3 separate regions of the Homo sapiens genome follow, and all the other regions are reported to be linked to region 3. Evidence: microRNA targets listed by miRTarBase, many of them from high-throughput screens and not tested one by one. Region 3 holds a microRNA gene; each other region holds the end of a gene's coding sequence.
Evidence for each region. The annotated mature microRNA hsa-miR-6757-5p reads UAGGGAUGGGAGGCCAGGAUGA and lies in region 3 at 3,053-3,074, shown strand. An mRNA with a match to its seed (bases 2 to 7 or 8) in the 3' UTR can be bound and repressed. Matches are read on the target gene's strand: a 7mer-m8 pairs with bases 2 to 8, a 7mer-A1 pairs with bases 2 to 7 and ends in A, and an 8mer does both.

Region 1 (5,062 bases), not on the chromosome of region 3:
AGCTCGTTTGTTTGCTCTCCTAAGATCTTGATTCCTTTTTCTTTGGGAAGTCTGTTAGCGCTGTCATTACTCCACACATTGGCATTTGGACCCACTTTTAACACACTTTATTTTGGAGAGACTTCAGATAGTGGACAAACTAAAGAATTTAAAATGAAACTCAAACAATTCCCAGAACATTATTCTATAAGCAGCTTGGAGACGATAGTTTGAAAAGTAATTCAGTGTCCTGTTTCTTCCTCAGGCTTCAGGGATGACTTCTTAGGGGGCAGGGGAGGTAGTCGCCCAGGCGACCGGCGAACAGGCCCCCCCATGGGCAGCCGCTTCAGAGATGGCCCTCCCCTCCGTGGATCCAACATGGATTTCAGAGAACCCACAGAAGGTACGGGCTCATGTGTCAGTGGAGGGCATCTTGTCCTGATGGGATGATCATGGCCGGTTCACACCCCGTGGGGACTTGGCGTTCTACGGCACACAGAGTTGTCGGCATAGATCCCCACGTTCTCTGGAATAGCAAGTTCACCTTGGTCATTAGAGCATCTGCTGTTGGGGTAGCAGGCCAGGTGAATTTTAGAAAGTGGGCTGGTTTGCTGACAGCAACATCAGCATGGTCGTTTTGCTGGATATGGAATGGGATCCACACTCTGACAAACTCTGCTTTTTCTCCCCCAGAGGAAAGAGCACAGAGACCACGACTCCAGCTTAAACCTCGAACAGTCGCGACGCCCCTCAATCAAGTAGCCAATCCCAACTCTGCTATCTTCGGGGGTGCCAGGCCTAGAGAGGAAGTCGTTCAAAAGGAGCAAGAATGAGCCTGCGGTTGGGAGGGAATGGGGCGTGGGGGGTTAGAGCAGGACCACAGCCTGGTGAGTCCCCGGGCAGCCGTCCTGCAGCCGCCACTCCTGCGCCTGCCATTGGCCTCCTCACAGCGGAAACACAGCTTGTGAGTGCATGTCAGCTGTTAACAAGTGGTTTTTAGTACATTCTGGGCTTTGCTGTATCTATCTAGTGCCTGTTTGTGCGTTTTTTTCTTTCTTCCGCTGCTTCCCCATTTTCCTTCTGTCCTTTTTCTCCTGCTCCTTGTTTTCCCAGCAGCACATGGGGTTCCTCGGAGGAGCAGAGGTGGCCGCCGTGGGGGGGCGTTTGGGCTGCGGTGCTGCGTCATTTTTCCTTTGCTTTCTCTTTACTTTAGACACTGGCCCAACTCCAGGCGTTTCCTTTCATTCCCTCAGTGCTTCTCTTCTGACCTGCATGTTGAGTTCTGTATTGCTGGGGCTTCCAACAAAAACCAGAGTCACTGACAGAGGGAACAGCAGAGACCTTGTTGGTATTCAGCTGTGATGGATATAGAGAATCAGAGGCACCTTGTTTTCACAACTAGGATAAAAATATCTGCAGGGTCCTTTCCATTCCTATTTAGAGGGAGTCCTGGCTCCATGACCCCCTCCCGAGTGGACTGTCCAAGCAGATAGGCTCACACGAGAAACAGTGAGGCTGAAAGGGGGGGCTATGGAAGAGCGGTAGGGAGTCCACGGAGAAGATGCAGTGAATGCTTGCATGCATTCACACGTGTGTGTGTCCCAGCTAGTTCACTCCTTTCGCCGTGCGTGGTGGAGGCTGGCCTCTCTGGCTGGGTGCAGTGAATGGCCAGCGGGTTTCTTTTCTGCTGGGCCAAGGCGCTTTGGGGGTGGAGGGGGTGGTGCTGGTGCTGCACTGGGCTGACTGCGGCGCTGACGCAGCGTTTCCCCCCATCCCTGTTGCCTGTGTGTTGTGTGGATCTGTTCCTAGTATAGGCAACATAATGAGATACTGTGCTTCCCACCTCCCCTTCAGTTCAGAGCCAAAATGGGTCTAGAATCTGGCACTTTACTCATTTCCTTTGATAAATTGTACTATGCAGAGCTGTCAGGAACCTTCAGATAGCAGTAGAGGACTGCAGCTGTCTAGGTCTGCGGCCACATCTTGGGGACACACTGGACTGTTCCCATGTGCAGGGTTCAGCAGTTATGTGGGAGTGCTAGGGGTTAGGCTTTTGAGCTTGAACGCCTGCGTGTGAACAGATGAAAAATCCTTCAGTACCCAAGTCCCAGTCTGTCCTATGGGGAGCAGTTTGGGGGCGGCCGGCAGCAGGAGCCTGGGAAAGAGGCCCTCGCCAGGTGATGGCAGGGCCAGGGTGGCCTGGGGCACCCAGCGGAATGTGCTTAGTATTTGGTCACCAGCCGTCATCCTGGGCTTTTCCTACTGTGTCTTGTTACAAGGCCTCAGCAATCCACAGAACTCTCTCTCCTTCCTTCCACCTGTCAGCTTCTCTGCTTCTGAGATAAGAACCATTTGTGTAACACCAACACTTAACTTCAGAAAGACATGCATTATGTGGTGTAATCAAACCCGATGCTTTCAGATGACCTACTTACATCTTCAATGTGGATAAGATAAAGAACAAAACACATGCATCTAAACTGCTGGGCAATCCAGTTGACTTTTAAATGTAAGAATGGAATTCCAAACACTTAACACATTCAGCTATATGACAGAAAGTAAATCTATGGATATGGTATTTTGTGAATGATCTTTTAAATAAAAGAAAACCTTACGTAATATTTAATGCTTGCCTTTATTTTTGAGTTCTTTTTAGCTGCTCATGGAATGTAACAATTTTAAATTTGGGAAGCACCATTGAAATGGAAGAGTCTTCCTGTCATTTTAATTCTGGGATGAGTGAAGTTATTTTAAAAGCTGGTGATGATTAGAAATAGGATGCCAATTTTTTCCCCTCACTTGCTAAAAATGTCCTTTTCCCAACCAGGCAGAAACCTTGAAAGTCTGGCTGTTTTTGGTTAGGTAAAGGAACATTTTTTTCCCAAGATGGAAGAAATCAAGCATTTACACAACATGTGGCTTCTTTTAACAACTGCTTGTAAACGAAATTCTAGGTGCCCCTCATGGCTGGGAGGGCTGCTGCTTCCTGACAGCAGATCCTGACTCTGGGGAGGTGCTGCTATAGGTTGGTATTGGATAGTGTTAAAATTGACTTAGGCAGACAAAGAAGAGCTGAGTGGGCAAGGTGCGGGGCATGAATGCGTGTTTGGCAAAGTCCTGGCTGACTTTGGAAGGGCCTGGCCAAGGCAGACCTTGCCTACCTTGAGGTAGGAGCATTGTCTGGTGATGGAGGACCCCGGACCACGACTAAATTTTAGTAAGGCAGGCAAGGGCTGTTCAGGTGGGAGCCTAGAGTAACTCTTTTGCTTCAACTACTTTCTACCCAAGAGTAGGTGGTAGAGAGGACCGGTGTTTCAGAGACAGGGTCTCCCTCTGTCACCCAGACAGGAGTGCAGTGGCGTGATCTCGGCTCACTGCAGCCTCCGCCTCACGGGTTCAAATGATCCTCTTGTCAGCCTCCCAAGTATCAGGGACTACAGGCACCCACCACCATGCCTAGCTAATTTTTGTATAGTAGAGATGGGGTTTCACCATGTTGACTAGGCTGGTCTCAAACTCCTGACCTCAAGTGATCCACCCACCTCAGTCTCCCAAATTGCTGGGATTATAGGCACAAGCCACCATGCCTGGCCCTGACATCTATTTTTAGTTGGTGATTTCTAGGGAATAGCCTGGTTTTCTCAATGAAGGACATTACTTAACAGAGATTAAGTCTAGAACAAGAAGAGCTGATTAACCTAGAACACGGGTTGACCTTGCCTTTAGGGTGGTGAAACGGCCTAAAACCTGAAGGAAGACTTCCCAGGGAGCTGGTCACTGGGGCCAGGCTCACTGGGCTTCTCTGAAGTCAGACCCTGGCCACATCTGGATGTTTTGTTTTTTTGGTTTTTGTTTTTTTTTTTTTTTTTTTTTTTTTTGGTGAGATGGAGATTTACTCTTGTTGCCCAGGCTGGAATGCAATGGCACGATCTCGGCTTACTGTATCCTCCACCTCCCAGGTTCAAGCGATTCTCCTGCCTCAGCCTCCTGAGTAGCTGTGATTATAGGCATGGGCCACCACGCGCGGCTAATTTTGCATTTTTAGTAGAGACAGGTTTTCACCGTGTTGCCCAGGCTGATCTCGAACTCCTGACCTCAGGTAATCCACCTGCCTCTGCCTCCCAAAGTGCTGGGATTACAGGCATGAGCCACTGCGCCTGGCTGGATGTTTTAAGATTTTATTTTATTTTGTATTTATTTTTCTTTGAGACAGAGTCATGCTCTGCCACCCAGGGTGGAGTGCAATGGTGTAATCTCAGCTCACTGCAACCTCCGCCTCTTGGGTTCCAGCGATCCTCCCACCTCAGCCTCCCTAGTAGCAGGGATTATAGGCACATGCCACCACGCCCAGCTAATTTTTGTGTTTTTAGTAGAGATGGGGTTTCACCATGTTGGGCAGGCTGGTCTCAAACTCCTGACCTCAGGTGGATCCACCCACCTTGGCCTCCAAAGGGCTGGGATTACAGGCGTGAGCCACTGCACCTGGCCTATTTCAATTTTTGTAGAGGTTTCACCATGTTGCCCAGACTCTTCTCAAACTCCTAAGCTCAAGAGATCTTCCCACCTTGGCCTCCGAAAGTGCTAGGATTACAAGCATGAGCTACCACGCCAGGCCAATGCTGAGATGTTTTAAGTCACTTTCTCATTTGTGAGGTTGACAGACTCATGAACACTTCCAGTCTTAAGGGTTTTCCTAGACTGGGCTCGGTGGCTCACGCTTGTAATCCCAGCACTTTGGGAGGCTGAGGTGGGCCGATCACGAGGTCAGGAGATCAAGACCATCCTGGCCAACATGGTGAAACTCCATCTCTACTAAAAATACAAAAATTATCCTGGCGTGGTGGCACACGCACCTGTAGTCTCAGCTACTCGGGAGGCTGAGGCAGGAGAATCGCGTGAACCCGAGGGGGAGCTTGCAGTGAGCCGAGATCGCGCCACTGCACTCCAGCCTGGGCGACAGAGCAAGACTCAGTCTAAAAAAAAAAAACAAGTCTTCCCTTTGCATGTTTTGGTCATGAAAGAAAAATAATGAATACTATGTACTTAAAATTATAACCTACTGTTCCCCATCTGTAAACACCCT
Region 2 (5,062 bases), not on the chromosome of region 3:
TCAGAATTCCCCCGAAGGGCAGTGCTGGGCGTGGGGGGCAGGGTGTGAAAAGGAGGCTGCGGAAAGGCATCCATGGCCACGGAGAGCGAGGCTGTCAGGGAGGCCGCTGCGGCCCGGGCAAGGGGAGGGCCGAACTCAGTCCGAAGTGGCTGGGGCCGGCTGTCCCTTGAGCCTGACTGCTCTTCCTCTTCAAAGCAGAAGCAGGACAGCAAGGAGGCCAACGCCAACGGTTCCAGCCCAGGTAAAGCCCCCATTCCTCTCGCCTCCCTTCCCTTTGCCATCCTCCTCCTCCTCCATCCTCACCTCTCTTGCCAGCCCCTGGCTGATGGCCCCTCTTTCCCTGTGACAGAGCCTGTGAAAGCTGTGGAGGCTCGGTCCCCAGGGCTGCAGAAGGAGGCTGTGCAGAAAGAGGAGCCCATCCCACAGGAGCCTCAGTGGAGGTACCAGCTTCCAATCCCAGGGTCCCTGAGCAGGGAGGCAGACTGCAGCTGGAGCTGCGGGGTGGCCTGGGCTTTCCTGGGAGGTGAGGTGCTGAGCCTTGGCCTCTGCATCCACAGTCTCCCAAGCAAGGAGTTGCCAGCGTCCCTGGTGAATGGCCTGCAGCCTCTCCCAGCACACCAGGAGAATGGCTTCTCCACCAACGGACCCTCTGGGGACAAGAGTCTGAGCCGAACACCAGAGACACTCCTGCCCTTTGCAGAGGCAGAAGCCTTCCTCAAGAAAGCTGTGGTGCAGTCCCCGCAGGTCACAGGTAGATCTCCTGATTCCTGGACCCAGCTCCATTCCTCCCAGCAGCCTTCCCTGTACTCCTCAGCCCTGCCTTCTCTTCTGGCTCTGCCAGGCACCCTCTCCTGCTCCACCCTGAAGACCCCCAGCTATCTGGGCTTGAGTGCTGTTTGCCCTGACTGTTTCCCTTCCTGTTTTTCCCCAGAAGTCCTTTAAGAGGGTTTGCCTTGGATCCGGGCACAGTTGTGAGGGCTCCTCTGCATCACCTACCAGGATGTCTGGAGGAGAAAAAGACAGAACAAAGATGGAAGTGGCCTGGGCCCCTGGGGGTGGGTCCTCTCTGTTGTTTTTAATCTGCACCTTATAGACTGATGTCTCTTTGGCCGGAGCCAGATCTGCCCCTCAGTGCATTCGTGTGCTCGCACGCGCAGACATCCCTTCTCCCCCATACACACATATACACTCACAGCCTCTCTGGCCTCTTCCCTTGGGGAGGGGCCACCTGTAGTATTTGCCTTGATTTGGTGGGGTACAGTGGATGTGAATACTGTAAATAGCTTGTGCTCAGACTCCTCTGCGTGGAGAGGGTGGGTGCAGGAGGCAGACCCTCCCCCCAAAGCCCCCTGGGGAGATCTTCCTCTCTCTATTTAACTGTAACTGAGGGGGATCCCAGGTCTGGGGATGGGGGACACCTTGGGCCACAGGATACTGGTTGCTTCAGGGGTACCCATGCCCCCTGCCCTCGCCTGGAATCAGTGTTACTGCATCTGATTAAATGTCTCCAGAAATAAAGAATAATTCTGCCAATCCTGCCTGTTCTTGGAGCTGGTGGCGGAGGTGGGAGCAGATGGCCTCCTGAGTTCTAAGAACTGAAGAAGCCTCGGGCTGGTGGTATTAGTCCTGAACTCCTGCCCTATGGTCTTCCAGTTTAGTCATGAATTCATTCATTTATTTATTCAACAAATACTGTTGCATCTACTCTGTGTCAGGCAGTAGGCTATGCACTGGGGATGCAATAGTCAGAAAGGATGTAATCTCTGTCCTTGTGCAGTTTATAGTCTAGTGGGTGAGTGTCGTGGACACTGTGGGCTGCCCACTCAACATCTATTCCCATTGCCCCTTCCTCATTCCAAATAATCTCTATTCAGGTAGCCATCTTTCTTTTAGATGGCACCCTGTGCTTCAGTGGAGGTGGATCTTAGCCGCAGGGGTGAATCGTGATTGTGACTGGGATCAAAAACAATGGTCCCAAACCCCTCATGATTGACTGGTGTAGGCATGGACATGTGACACAGTTTCAGCCAGTAGACATGAAGGGAAGCCTCCTGGGGGCTTCAGGAAGGGTATCCTCATTTTTTTTTTTTTGAGACGGAGTCTGGCTCCATCGCCCAGGCTGGAGGGCAGTGGTGCAATCTCAGCTCACTGCAACGTCCACCTCCCAGGTTCAAGCGATTCCCCTACCTCAGCCTCCCGAGTAGCTGGAACTACAGGCGCCAGCCACCACGCCTGCCTAATTTTTGTATTTTTAGTAGAGATGGGGTTTCACCGTGTTAGCCAGGATGTTCTCTTATCTCCTGACCTTGTGATCCGCCTGCCTCGCCCTCCCAAAGTGCTGGGATTACAGGCGTGAGCCACCGGCATCCTCATTTTTGACAATGTGGTCGTCAGCCTCTGTAATGACCTCTCGATGATGTCCCCTACCTCCTAGTATTCACACCCTTGTGTAGTTCCTTCCTATGTTGTATCAGGGTTGGGTTGAGTGGCCAATAGAATACGGCAGAAGTGATGGTGTGTCACATCTGAGATTAGGTATAAAAAACACTGCACTCATGCCTGTAATGCCAACACTTTGGGAGGCCAAGGCCAGTAGATTGCTTCAGCCCAAGAGTTCTAAGACCAGCCTAGGCAACATGGTGAAACCCCATCTCTAACAAAAATTCAAAAATTAGCCAGGCGTGGTGGCACATGCCTGTAATCCCACCTACTCAGGAGGCTGAAGTGGGAGAATCATCTGAGCCTGGGAAGTCAAGGCTGCAGTGAGCCCTGATTGTGTCACTGCACTCCAGCCTGGGCAACAGAGTGAGACCCTATCTCAAAAAACAAAAACAGGACAGGCGTGGTGGCTCACGCCTGTAATCCCAGCACTTTGGGAGGCCAAGGTGGGCAGATCACGAGGTCAGGAGATCGAGACCATCCTGGCTAACACAGTGAAACCCCGTCTCTACTAAAAATACAAAAAATTCTCCGGGCGTGGTGGCGGGCACCTGTAGTCCCAGCTACTCGGGAGGCTGAGGCAGGAGAATGGCATGAACCTGAGAGGCGGAGGTTGCAGTGAGCCGAGATCGCGCCACTGCACTCCAGCCTGGGTGACAGAGGGAGACTCTGTCTCAAAAAAAAAAAAAAAAAGCAGCAGCATTTAGGCCGGGCATGCTGGCTCATGCCTGTAATCCCAGCACTTTGGGAGGCTGAAGCAGGCGGATCACGAGGTCAAGAGTTCAAGACCAACCTGGCCAACATGGTGAAACCTCATCTCTACTAAAAATACAAAAAATTAGCCGGGTGTGGTGGTGCGCGCTTGTAGTCCCAGCTACTCGATAGGCTGAGGCAGGAGAATCGCTTGAACCTGGGAGGCGGAGGTTGCAGTGAGCCGAGATCTTGTTACTGCACTCCAGCCCAGGTAACAGTGCGAGACTCCATCTCAAAAAAAAAAAAAAAAAAAGCAGCATTTAAACTGGACCTGAAGAAGGATAGGGAGGAGCCAGCCTTGTGAAAGGAAGGAGGAGGCAAGTTGCAGATGGAGGGGTCAGTATGCAGGAGGCTGGGAATTCCAGGGACAAAGGAGCAGGAGCTCCTCTTGCTGGAGCATCAAAGGGGAGAGGTGCTAGATGGGGTTGGAGAGGTGGGCAGGGCTAAGTCACAGCGCTCTAGGGACAGTAAGGGGCAGGAAGGGACTAGCACACTCATTCAGCTCTCTGCTTGGTGAGAGCTCCTATATGTATGCCCCTCCCGGCCTCCCCTCCTCAGCCATCACCCACCAGCTCCTATGTACAGTGAGGCAGAGGTGCCAACATTTCCCTGAAGGGCAGAACTCTGAATACTCTTATGGGGGAATTGTTTACTCATTCATTTAGTCAATCAGTAAATTGCCTGTGGAGCACCAGCTGAGCACCGGAGGGAAACGATGGTAAGCAAAAACCAGACGTAGAAGCTCCTGGCGCTTCCTGGCAAGGAAGATGGGTATAAACCAAATCACCATATCACCACAGGAACAAATGTTAAAAAAGAAAATGTGGTGAGTGCTGTGAAGTCAAACATAGGGAGCAGTTAAGAGCGTATACAGGGGGACCTAAACTAGCTTCAGGTCGGATAAGATATCCCTGAATGAATGGTGTGTAATCAGATCTGATGGGTGAGTAGGTGTTGACTGGGCAAAGTCAGGAAGGTAGAGAAAGAAGGAGAGGGAAAGGACTGGATTCCAGAACAAGGGAAACCACATGCACAGGCTGTGGATGGGAAGGAGGTATGTTCAAGTATCTAGAGGACTAAGCAGAGCTGAAGGAGTCTGTTTTTGCTCACCCCAGAGCCTGGTGGAACAGGCACTCAATATTTGTTGAATTAAGAAATGTCAGTTGAGGAGGTGGAGCTTGGCATGAGGTGAGCTAGACCATGCAAGGCCTTGTAAGGCTGTGGTCAAGAGCTTGGATTTTATTCCAAGGGCCATGGGAAGCCACTGAAGGCTATTCAACAGGGGGTGGAAGGGTGGCATGATCAGATAGGCAGTTTTTTGTTTTGTTTTGTTTTGGTTTTTTGAGACGGAGTTTTGCTCTGTGGCCCAGGCTGGAGTGCAGTGATGTGATCTCTGCTCACTATAACCTCTGCCTCCGGGGTTCCAGCAATTCTCCTGCCTCAGCCTCCCGAGTAGCTGGGACTTACAGTCACACACCACCACCTCCGGCTAATTTTTGTATTTTTTTTTTTTTTTTTTTTTTTTTTGAGATGGAGTCTCGCTCTGTCACCCAGGCTGGAGTGCAGTGGCGCGATCTCGGCTCACTGCAAGCTCCACCTCTCGGGTTCACGGCATTCTCCTGCCTCAGCCTCCCAAGTAGCTGGGACTACAGGCGCCAGCCACCATGACTGGCTAATTTTTTTGTATTTTTAGTAGAGACAGGGTTTCACCGTATTAGCCGGGATAGGATGGTCTCGATCTCCTGACCTCGTGATCCGCCCGCCTCGGCCTCCAAAAGTGCTGGGATTACAGGCGTAAGCCACTGTGCCTGGCCTAATTTTTGTATTTTTAGTAGAGATGGGGTTTCACCATATTGGTCAGGCTGGTCTC
Region 3 (5,068 bases):
TCTGGAGTGGGCAGTCTAGAGTAGGGGGTACCCAAAGAGATGTCTAGACACTGTCTGTTAACCACCAGGGATCCACCAAATCTCTGAACCACTCAAAGCAGCGCAGCACTCTGCCCAGGTAAGTGAGGGTGCTGGGGTGGTCCCACGTGACCCCCTTTCCGCCGGCCCCACACCTCAGCCCAGGGCACTGCCCCGCAACAGAGCTCCCCGGGACAGCCCCCCACCCCCAAAGCGGTATTCTCCCTCCAGACCGATCCACCCACCCTCAGGACCCAGCAGGCTTCACCTGCTGCCCAACAGACAGCCTTCCCGTCACACTAGCCACCTCCGGGTGCCCCGCCCCTGCGTTCATGCGTAGGCTCCTCCTCCCCAGGAGCTTCAGCCTGGACCCGCTCATGGAGCGGCGCTGGGACTTAGACCTCACCTACGTGACGGAGCGCATCTTGGCCGCCGCCTTCCCCGCGCGGCCCGATGAACAGCGGCACCGGGGCCACCTGCGCGAGCTGGCCCATGTGCTGCAATCCAAGCACCGGGACAAGTACCTGGTGAGGGGCGGGGCCATCAGGAGTCCGCCAATGAGAGGGATGTAGGGTCCAGATGGGCGAGGCTAATCACTGACGTCACCAGCGGAGGCGAGGCCGCCAGGGGGCGGGACCAGAGTGGTGGGGTGGGGGCGGGGCCCGGAGCGCGGCCTGGAGCGGAGCGGAGAATCCTGGAACGCTGGCGACTTGGCTGTGACTGGCTAGGCCGGGCCTTAGCTACCTTTTTATTTTCTTTATTTATTTACCTTTTTTTTGAGACGGGGTCTCACTTTGTTGCCCAGGCTGGAGTGCAGTGGCACGATCTCACCTCACTGCAACCTCCTCCACCCGGGCTCAAGCGATTCTCCCACCTCAGCCTCAGTAGCTAGGATTACAGGCGTGCGTCACTCACGCCCAGCCAATTTTTTTTTTTTTTTTTTTTTTTTTTTGTATTTTTTGTAGAGACGGGGTTTCGCCATGTTGGCCAGGCTGGTCTCAAGACTCCAGGGCTCAAGCGATCCACACCCGGCAAATTGTTGTAATTTTAGTAGAGATGAGGTTTCACCATGTTGGCCAGGCTGGTCTCGAACTCCTGACCTCAGGTGACCCGCCCGCCTTGGTCTCCCAAAGTGCTGGGGTTATAGGCGTGAGTTACTGCGACCGGCCTGCACCTTATTTTAGAGGAAGATTCTTACTTAGGATCCACCTCCACCTCGTGCCTCATTGCCGGAGATCATTTCTGTCTAAAGCCCTCCCCCTTTATTTCAGCTCTTCAACCTTTCAGAGAAAAGGCATGACCTGACCCGCTTAAACCCCAAGGTATGAAGGAAATGGCCTGCCCAACCATTAAACCAAGCCACCCCAACCCCAGAAGCCCCCAGCTTCCTCGTTATTAATAGTAGCAATTGGCATCTACTTCACTCTTAAGCACTTTCCCACTCTCCCATGATATATTACTGGAGACACCCCAAAACGTGATGCAGCAGGTATCAGCCCATTGTATGGATAAGGAAAGTGCCGAGGCTATCATGGACAACCAGCAGACCCCCAGCCTTGCCCCCGGACCCCTATGCCCTGTCCCCTTTCCACCCTGCCCATCTCTCTCTGTTGGTGGCCCCCGGCCCCAGTTGCACCCCTGCATTCTCCCCAGGTTCAAGACTTCGGCTGGCCTGAGCTGCATGCTCCACCCCTGGACAAGCTGTGCTCCATCTGCAAAGCCATGGAGACATGGCTCAGTGCTGACCCACAGCACGTGGTCGTACTATACTGCAAGGTGGGCCAGGACCTCGGGTTCCCTGGTGCCTGGAGGTTCCAGGTCAGCCTGGAGCTCCCAGACCCTCATCCCTGTCTCTCTGTCTGTCAGGGAAACAAGGGCAAGCTTGGGGTCATCGTTTCTGCCTACATGCACTACAGCAAGATCTCTGCAGGGTGAGGCTCCCAGCGCCTGAGTAGCTGCTTCCCCAGTGGCCCTTTCTCCAGCTGGCCCCTTAGGAACCCATCTCCCCTGGAGCCCACCTCTTCGTTGAGAGTCCTTTGCTGTCAGCTTAGCACTTCCACCTCCCTTTTATCACTAGTACTGCAACATAGTCTGCAGCAGATGGTCTGTAGAGTTTCCTGGGGCAGCCACAAACAGGGTGGTGTAAAACAGTGGAAATGGGCCGGGTGCGTTGGCTCACGCCTGTAATACCAGCACTTTGGGAGGCTGAGGTGGGCAGGTCACCTGAGGTCAGGAGTTTGAAACTAGCCTGGCCAGGTGAAACCCCATCTCTACCAAAAATATAAAAATATAAAAATTAGCCGGGCGTGGTGGTGGGCGCCTGTAATCCCAGCTACTCAGGAGGCTGAGGCAGGAGAATTGCTTGAACCCAGGAGACGGAGGTTGCAGTGAGCCCACACGGTGCCACTGTACTCCAGCCTGGGTGACAGAGTCAGACTCCGTCTCAAAAAAAACAAAAACAAAACAAAACAAAAAACAGTGGAAATGTACTCTCTCACAGTTCTGGAGGCCAGAAGCCCCAAACCAAGCTGTCAGCAGGCCCTTGCTCCATCTGAGACTCGGGATGGAATCCTTCCTTGTCTCTTTCTAGCTTCCAGTGGTGGGCGGCAAGCCTTGGCATTCCTTGGTTTGCAGACACATCACTGTAATCGCTGCCTCTGTCATCACATGGTGTTCTCCCTGTGTGTCTCTGTCTGTGTCTCTTCCTCTCTTCTTATAAGGACACCAATCATATTGGATTCAGGGTCCACCCTCCTTCAGTATGGTCTCATCTTAACTAATTATGTCTGCAACGGCCCTATTTCCAAATAAGGTCACATTCTGAGGTACATGTCTTTTGGGGGGATATAATTCAACCCATAAGATGGTTTTGTTGCCCTGTTTTACAGATGAAAAAACTAAAGTTCAGGGAACAATTGCCTGAGGCCCAACAACTAGTAAAGTGACTGTACATGGTGCTTCTCATTCTCATTACCACTACTCTGGGCTTCTTCTAGACTTAGAGAATCATATTTCTCCTCCATCCCCTGGGGCTTAGGGATGGGAGGCCAGGATGAAGATTAATCCCTAATCCCCAACACTGGCCTTGCTATCCCCAGGGCGGACCAGGCACTGGCCACTCTTACCATGCGGAAATTCTGCGAGGACAAGGTGGCCACAGAACTGCAGCCCTCCCAGCGTCGGTGAGCAGCCTGGGTGGGGATGGGCCAGAGGAGCAGCTCCCTTCATGGCTACCAAGGCCAAGACTCTCTTATTCATGCAGCACACTTTCACTGAGTGTGCCAAGCGCCGTGCCAGGTGCTGAGAATTCAAAGTGGACAAAGCCCCTGCTCTCATGGAGCTTTCATGCTAGTAGGGTGGAAGGCAGTAGACCTGGGAATAAATAGACGAGGAGATCAGTCATAAAGAGAACCTGAAGGACAGTCAGGGCCTGCCACTATAAAGTGAAGCAGAGCTCTGGGGAAAGAGCTTTGAGGCAGAGGGGAGCAGGAGGGATTGAGGTTAGATGCAAGGAAGAACTTTCTGGTGACCCGGAAGATGGGAAGGAAGTGTTGAGCAGAAGAGCGAGCCTTCTAAGGGTGGATGGTTGAAATGATACAAGGTGACCTCCAGAGGAAAAGGCTTATGTTCTCCTTGACACGCCCTCCACCAGATATATCAGCTACTTCAGTGGGCTGCTATCTGGCTCCATCAGAATGAACAGCAGCCCTCTCTTCCTGCACTATGTGCTCATCCCCATGCTGCCAGCCTTTGAACCTGGCACAGGTGAGTCTGCCTGAGATGTGCTCCCTAGGGAGAACCACCTTCAGGCCCTCTCCACTCAGCACCCCTCCTGTGCCTTCTCCTCTGCCCCTCCAGGCTTCCAGCCCTTCCTTAAAATCTACCAGTCCATGCAGCTTGTCTACACATCTGGAGTCTAGTGAGTGCTCTATTCCCAGGCCCCTGACACTTCATGACCAGGGCCCCTCTTGCTCCTGCATTCCTGCTTCTCCAGCCTCCCTAGACACCTGGGCAGGGCTCAGACTCTGGTCTCCTGGCTCCCCCTGACTGCATAGCTGCCTCTGCACGCAGGAGCTTCTGGTTCATCTCTGCCTTCTCCTCTCTCCCCACAGTCACATTGCAGGCCCTGGTCCCCAGCAGCTTTGCATCAGCCTGGAGCCAGCCCTCCTCCTCAAAGGCGATGTCATGGTGAGGGGGGTCCTGTCAACAAGAAGAATCCTGGAGATGGGGCAGGGGTTGGTGGTGTAACGGCACAGTCACCAATTTGAGACAGATTGGAGAGCGAGTAGGGAGATCACCTTGAGATCGAGGCAGGGCAGAAGCTGTGACCAGGCAGTCCCCAGGGTGGAAGCGCAGAAGAGGACATGAGGCCTGATCCGCAGCCTCCTGCCTTTCTCCCAGGTAACATGTTATCACAAGGGTGGCCGGGGCACAGACCGGACCCTCGTGTTCCGAGTCCAGTTCCACACCTGCACCATCCACGGACCACAGCTCACTTTCCCCAAGGACCAGCTTGACGAGGCCTGGACTGGTGAGTCTGAGACAAGTGGCCTGGGGCTGGAGTCCAGGTGGCAGGCAGGTGGCAGGCAGGTGGCAGGCAGGCAGGAGAGTGTGGTATGGGCCAGGGGCCTGGTTCTTCACTGTCCACTCCCCATAGATGAGAGGTTCCCCTTCCAAGCCTCCGTGGAGTTTGTCTTCTCCTCCAGCCCCGAGAAGATCAAAGGTAAGAGCAGGGACATGGGCTGGGGACTGAGGGCCGCCTCTCCCCTGCTCCCCAATACCCGAGTGGCCTTCCACAGGCAGCACTCCACGGAACGACCCCTCGGTCTCTGTCGACTACAACACCACTGAGCCAGCCGTGCGCTGGGACTCCTATGAGAACTTCAACCAGCACCACGAGGACAGTGTGGATGGTGCGCAGGCAGCCTGCAGGGTGGGAGGTACAGGGTTGTGGCGGGACCCTGGGGGGTGGTGCCAGGGAGAAGCACACTCCCTCCTCCCCAGGCAGAGCCCACTCCCGAGAGACACCCCCGGCCCGACAGCTGTCTCC

Region 1: the mRNA of EIF4H is a reported target of hsa-miR-6757-5p. Seed matches in the 3' UTR shown: 7mer-m8 at 1,750-1,756.
Region 2: miRTarBase lists MAP7D1 as a target of hsa-miR-6757-5p. Seed matches in the 3' UTR shown: 7mer-m8 at 1,159-1,165.

What each region holds. Positions count from the first base shown.
Region 1 is chr7:74,194,497-74,199,558 of GRCh38, forward strand. It overlaps EIF4H (eukaryotic translation initiation factor 4H), which reads left to right. Exons shown (of 7, transcript NM_022170.2): 6 at 245-382; 7 at 673-2,600. The coding sequence ends at 812. Among named protein-coding and RNA genes, the nearest start is that of MIR590, 5.8 kb to the left of the region's middle. RefSeq lists an enhancer at 1,643-2,144.
Region 2 is chr1:36,179,317-36,184,378 of GRCh38, forward strand. It overlaps MAP7D1 (MAP7 domain containing 1), which reads left to right. Exons shown (of 17, transcript NM_001388490.1): 14 at 199-241; 15 at 350-440; 16 at 558-751; 17 at 932-1,533. The coding sequence ends at 942. Among named protein-coding and RNA genes, the nearest start is that of MAP7D1, 26 kb to the left of the region's middle. RefSeq lists an enhancer at 1-143.
Region 3 is chr12:53,053,897-53,058,964 of GRCh38, forward strand. It overlaps MIR6757 (microRNA 6757), which reads left to right and starts at 3,048; the gene lies at 3,048-3,116. It overlaps TNS2 (tensin 2), which reads left to right. Exons shown (of 29, transcript NM_170754.4): 6 at 69-118; 7 at 374-545; 8 at 1,290-1,340; 9 at 1,672-1,794; 10 at 1,885-1,949; 11 at 3,117-3,200; 12 at 3,671-3,783; 13 at 3,877-3,937; 14 at 4,131-4,206; 15 at 4,420-4,549; 16 at 4,676-4,741; 17 at 4,818-4,931. It overlaps TNS2-AS1 (TNS2 antisense RNA 1), which reads right to left and starts at 542. Exons shown (of 4, transcript NR_033854.1): 1 at 425-542.